Regions from separate parts of the Homo sapiens genome. Here region 2 is linked to region 1. The links come from fine-mapping of genetic effects on gene expression. A gene starts in region 1. The other region holds a variant in brackets. All regions are shown on one strand. Distances are from middle to middle.

The links.
Region 2: its variant is fine-mapped to the expression of TNFRSF4 in whole blood (TOPMed, PIP above 0.99).

What each region holds. Positions count from the first base shown.
Region 1 is chr1:1,212,904-1,215,722 of GRCh38, forward strand. It overlaps TNFRSF4 (TNF receptor superfamily member 4), which reads right to left and starts at 1,250. Exons shown (of 7, transcript NM_003327.4): 1 at 1,080-1,250; 2 at 760-882; 3 at 89-190. The coding sequence starts at 1,224. RefSeq lists a silencer at 328-377.
Region 2 is chr1:1,234,950-1,237,841 of GRCh38, forward strand. It overlaps B3GALT6 (beta-1,3-galactosyltransferase 6), which reads left to right. Exons shown (of 1, transcript NM_080605.4): 1 at 1-92. Among named protein-coding and RNA genes, the nearest start is that of B3GALT6, 4.2 kb to the left of the region's middle. The variant A/G (reference allele first, on the strand shown) is at 1,354.

The DNA.
Region 1 (2,819 bases):
GGCCAGGTCCCTGCGGCCCACGGCCCATCTGCGTCACAGACAGCCGCTATGCACACCCCCAACCGCCGGCCGCAGCCACCGAGCTCACCAACTCCAGGCTTGTAGCTGTCCAGGGGCTGGGTGCCCGCCCGGCAGCGGCAGACTGTGTCCTGTGTGGCCGTGCACAGCTGCTTCCGCTCACTCCCACTTCCTGAGCAGGGGCCGGATGGGGGGGTGGTCAGGTGGGGGCTGTGGACAGGGTCCTCAGGAAGCGTGGGCACTGGAGGACAGGTTGGCCTCCCCACCACACAGAGGGCCGTGGGCAGGGGTCTGCGGCCTCCCCTGAGACTTGGAGCCCCTGCAGCCCCCGAGGCTCCTGGGCCCTCCCTTCCTGGCCACAACCTGGGGCTGGTTCCGTGGCAGCCCCAGCCACCCTTCCCTACCCCTCCACCGCCTCCAGCCGCCAGCCCCGCCTGCGGCAGGGTCTCCATGGCCCAACCCCCCAGCCTCACTGCTCAGGCCAGCAAGGCCAGGCCACATGGCCAGCGTGGTCTCCCCGACTCCACGTGGCCTGGGCCGAGTCTGGGCCCCCGGAGGGAGAGGGGGTGCCCCTGGGAGACGCCTCAGCTCCTCGAAGGACCCCTGTGGCGGAGCAGACCCCGCTGTGGTTTGAGGTTCGTTTCTGCGGCTGTGGGAGCCCCATGCTGCTGCGTGGGAATGTGGGTGCCAGGCTGCCGCCCCCTGTGCTGGGTGGGGCTGTGGGGCCAGGTGGGAGCTCACTGAGGTTACACCACGTGCAGGGCTTGCACGGCTTGGAGCTGACCACGTCGTTGTAGAAGCCCGGCCCGCACGGACGGCACACCGTGTTCTGGGAGCGGCTGCAGCGGCTCACCATCCCGTTGCCTGCAGCAGAGGCCGGCGTCAGGCAGCGGTCAGGCCCCAGGCTTGCGCCCGTGGACCCCCCCAGGCGGCTCCTCTGCCAGGCTTGGCCGGCCCCTCACCCGCCCCCTCCCCAGGACCAGCCTCCTGGCTGGCCCATCCCTGCCCCAGCCCCCAGTCCCTGGAGTGCCCGTGCGTGGCGACCCCTCCTGAGGCCTCACCTGGCCTGCACTCGTGGCAGCACCGGTCGTTGCTGGGGTAGGTGTCCCCGACACAGTGGAGCCCCGTCACGGTGCTCAGCCCCAGGCCCAGGAGGAGCAGAGCCGCACACGGCCCGCGGCCCAGCCGCCGAGCCCCCACGCACATCCTCGTCTCTGCTGTCGCCAGAGTCTGGGTTTTCCTTGCGGGGTGTGGCTATAAGGACTGTGGAGGAGGGGAGGGGAGAGGGGAGGAGGGCAGAGGAGGCGGGAGGAGGAAGGTGGCAGGCCGGGGACCCTGGCTGTGGGCTGGGCACAAAGGCGGGGTCTGGGCACCCCCAGCATTGGCTTATTCTGCCTTCTGACCTCTTCTGCCCAAGACCACCGTGTTCAGACCCCAGGGCACAGTAGGGCCTGGCCTGCGGCTCGACCCTCAGCAAAAAGGTCCATGGAGCACGTGGGTAAACTGAGGCAGCACTGAGTCAGGAGAGGCAACTCCTCAGTCTGGACCTTCAGGGCTGTGGCACTGCTGAAGCATGGTCCCCCTTGTATGCCCAAGACTAGCTCTGAGCAGCAGTGACCACAGCCATGGTAAGACAGACACCCATGGCCAGGCACGGTGGCTCCCGCCTGTAATCCCAGCACTTTGGGAGGCCAAGGCGGGTGGATCACCTGAGGTCAGGAGTTCAAGACCAGTCTGGCTAACATGGCGAAATCCCGTCTCTACTAAAACTACAAAAATTATTCGGGCGTGGTGGCGGGCGCCGGTAATCCCAGCTAGTCAGGAGGCTGAGGTAGCAGAATCACTCGAACCCAGGAGACAGAAGTTGCAAAGCAGAGGTGGCGCCACTGCACTCCAGCCTGGGCGACAGGGCGAGACTCATCTCAAAAAAAAAAAAAAAGACACCCGTGACCACAGCCCACGCTGAGTGTGCCTGAGCACGGCAGGTGTCTATGGCTGAACTGTGCCCCTTAAATTCCTGCGTGGAAGCCCTAACCCCCATGTGGCAGTGTTTGGAGACAGGCCTCTGAGGAGGTGGTGAGGGTGGGTCCTGGATGGCCTGGCGCACACGGGCACGCAGGCAGGTTTCCACCTTCTATGCAAACAGTTCTCAGGTTCCAGGTTTGCCCAGAGGATGCGAACTGCCCGGAGAGCTGGGGAGCAGGTGCGGGGCTGGGGGCTCCCTGGGCCCTTTCTGCACCTTTCAAATAACTGTGACCAGCCTGTGATTATCCAAAAGTTCATTTTTGAAGTTGCAAGTGGAGAGGGGCCTCTAGGAACAGAGCAGCAGGGAAGGGGCTGGAAATCCCCTCCTCCCAGGAGCACAGGAAACAGCTGCCTGTCCTCGGCCCACCCGTGGGGAAATTCCCAGCCGTGGAGCCCGCTGGCCCTGGAGAGGGAGGGAGTGGAGGGAGAGGCCACCCGCCCTCGGACTGAGGGTCCCTAAGTTGGTCACCCTCCCCACGTCCCCACAAGTAGAGAGGACCCTGGAAGGGCTCAGAGCATCCCAGACAGTGTGTGTACCTGCATGTGCACACCCCAACCCAGGTGGGCAGAGGAGGAAAGTTCTGGCATTTTGTGGAAGGTTCCACCCAGCGTTCACAAGGGTTTCCCACTGACAGTGAGAAAAAGCTTACATTTGCAATTGGTTCCTTGGAGGTTCAGGTGAACTGGGGGTCTTGGTGGGCAACACTGCTCTCCTGGGGCCTAAGTGGCCACATCTGCCCACAGGTGCAGTGAGTGGGGCCCGTGCACCATGGAGA
Region 2 (2,892 bases), 22 kb after region 1:
TAAAAATCCAGTTTGCAACCACTTCTGACCTACAAAAAAATGGAAATTTAGTGTTTTTCAGCCTAAGACATTAAATTTCATATCAGAACAAAGCCTGCCCCAGGCTGACCCTCCCCAGCCGTACCGTGGTGAACGGGTTCAGAGGATACGTGGGCTGAAGGCTGGGCCTCGGGAGGGCTGGGGGCTTCCAGAGCCGGGGCAGCTGCAGCTCTCTCTGGTCTCACCTGGAACTTGCCCTGTAGATCCTCCCTGCCCTGCGGCTCCAATCGACCGTGCACGGGCCGTGGCATCCGTCCCCCAGGCGTCCTTCCCTGGTCTTAGCTTGTACAGCTCCCCACCCACCCAGGTACTCGGTTCCCGGAGACCAGGGCCAAACCAGGAGGCCCTCGGGAGATGGGGGGTCACCGAATTCATTTCCATGTGGGAACTTGGGATACAAAACAGCCAACTCTTCCTCAGCCACACGGATGTTTCTCCTCTAGTGGCCCCGAGAACCTACCATGGAGGGGACAGTGTCAGGGCTGGACGGGCACGGCGCAGCCACACGCACACAGCCCCCAGGAGGCACAGGGCCGGCAGGGAATGCAGGTCAAGCCAAGAGGATGGGCTCTGGTCCCTTCAGGATCCCCCAGGAGGAGAGCACCCCCTTCTGCCCTCTTCCTGGGGACTATGGTCCTGCCTCTCTGCCCCCTGAGGCTGGCATGCAGGCACCTGACGTTGGCTCCAGCTCTCTGGGCCAGCCCTGGGTACCCGCCGGGCCTGTGGCCTGGTTGGTCACCCCCAAGATGCAAAGTGCTACCTGCATCCGGAGGCACCCCCGCCCCTGAGGCCTCCAGGTTCCCACCTGCCCACCTGTGTCTGGCTGGGATCCTGGCTGTCAAGGCTCCTGTTACGGGACTGAACTGTGCCCCCTAAAAGATATTCCAAGCCCTAACCCAGCAGCTACAAACTGACCTTGTCTGGAAGTCGGGTCTCTGCAGGTGGAATTGCGTTAAGGCAAGGTCCTGAGGTGGCCTTACTCCCACGGAACTGGTGTCCTTACCAGAAAAGACCTGGGAAAAAGCCACTGTGTGGCTAGAGACTGACACCCAGGCGATGCCTCTGCAGGCCAAGGATTGAGGACCCTCCACCCCCACCCCACCAGGCAAGGAAGGGCTCTACCCAGAGTCAGGAGCGTGGCCTCCAGGGCTGCGAGGGAAGACGCCCCGTCCAGCAGCCCCAGGATGCCAGCCCAGTTCCCTGTGCCCGGCGCTCTTCGGTGCAGACGCAGGCAGGGGCTCCTGCAACCTTGTGGCATCACAGACGCCCAGCACTGACTGGGCCCAGATCTCCTCCCCGCAGGGCTCAGCACAC[A/G]CCCTGTTCCCGGCAGGCCTCCATCAGTCCAGCCTGCAGCAGGGCTGCCCCCGCGGCCTGGGTCACCCCAGACTCTTCCACCCTCTCCCTGGCTGACTGTCCCAGCTCAGAGTCCTCAGGTCTAAGGGGGTCACGGCCCTCCTGTGGCCCCACCGGCCCCAGGCTCCCCAGCTGTGGCACTGTGAGACCAGCTGACGTTGCAGGAATGGAAGCCCCAGCGGCCCAGACGGCTTGGGGAGTCCTCGGGAGCAGGTGGCCAGAGACAGGTGCGTGCCAGGCCCTCCGCACCCAGAGCGGGGCCGGGAGGAGAGAGGAGGCCCCTTGTTCGCGCAAGGCCCTGCTTCCTGGGCCCACAGCAGCCTGTCAGAAGTTTCCAGCTCCTTGGACTGGCTGTGTGGGGCCTGCTCCCTGGTTTCAGGGGCCTGGGAAGGGCTTGGCGCTTTTTCCTGGTTTCCTACTCTGAGGTGAGCTGGCGTCTCCCTCTCCCACTGTGGGCTGAGGGGAAAGACCTCTGTGTCCATCCCACAGGCCTGGCCAATCTCTGGGGTCCTCAAAGAGGAGGCTTTTGAGGGGGCACAGCCCAAACCCCTGGGCCTCCCCTTGAGGTCTCCTCCCAGCCCCCACCCAGAGGACCTTCCCACAGCCTTGGGAGCTGAAACCCAGGCCACCCCATCAAGTTGGCCTCTGTGGGTGTACACACTCCTTTCCCTCAGGGCCAGGGTGGGTCCCCACCCCCAGCACTCACAGCCCCTCCTTCTCTGGCCTCCCTGCCCTCCGCACCCTCCCTGCTAGATGCTGGTGCCGCTAGCCCTGCCCTGATGGCCACACTGCACCACGCTGGCCAGGTCAGAACCACCCGAGGAGAAGAACCAAGATCTGGCCCCACCCTGTCCTCCTCGGAAGGTCTCTCTGGGGCCCACCCCCTCCTCCCTCCCCAAGGATCTGAGCCTCCCTCACCGAGGTTCCCAGTGGAGGTAGACAGTGGATGAGTGATCCCAGGAGAGCTGGCTGCAGCCAAGGGGCTGAAGGGAGGTGGAGGCGGGAGGGGCAGGAAGGAGGATCTGGAAGGCCCCAGGCGCTCCCCACCCATCCAGCCTCGGCCTCTGTCCTGGTCGCGTTGCCCAGCGAGGCCTCTCCTTGGGCTGGGGCTCGGGTACTCTGCCCTGGTCGGGGCCACAGATGCCGCAAAGTCCCCTCAACTCAGCTAGCCAGGGTGCAAGACCGCGCCCACAGCTGAGAAGCCAGGGGTTACGAGTGTGGCCCTGCCAGGACCTCCTCAGCTGCATCCTCCAGAGTAAACACAGGTGGCCGCAGATCTTCCAGGGCCGGCCGGGCAGGCAGGACAGGAGCCCAGGAGGGCCGCAGTCCAGCTCCCCTCCCCGCTGACCCAGGGCCGGACCCAGCCCGGTGACTGGAGCAGAAGGAAACCCAAGCCCCAGGCCCTCCCTCCGGTGGCATCCGAAGGTCTCAGCGGCCCCAGCCTCCCCCAGGGGCCCCGCACCCGCCACCGCCCACCTCAGACCGGAGAGAGAGTGAGGG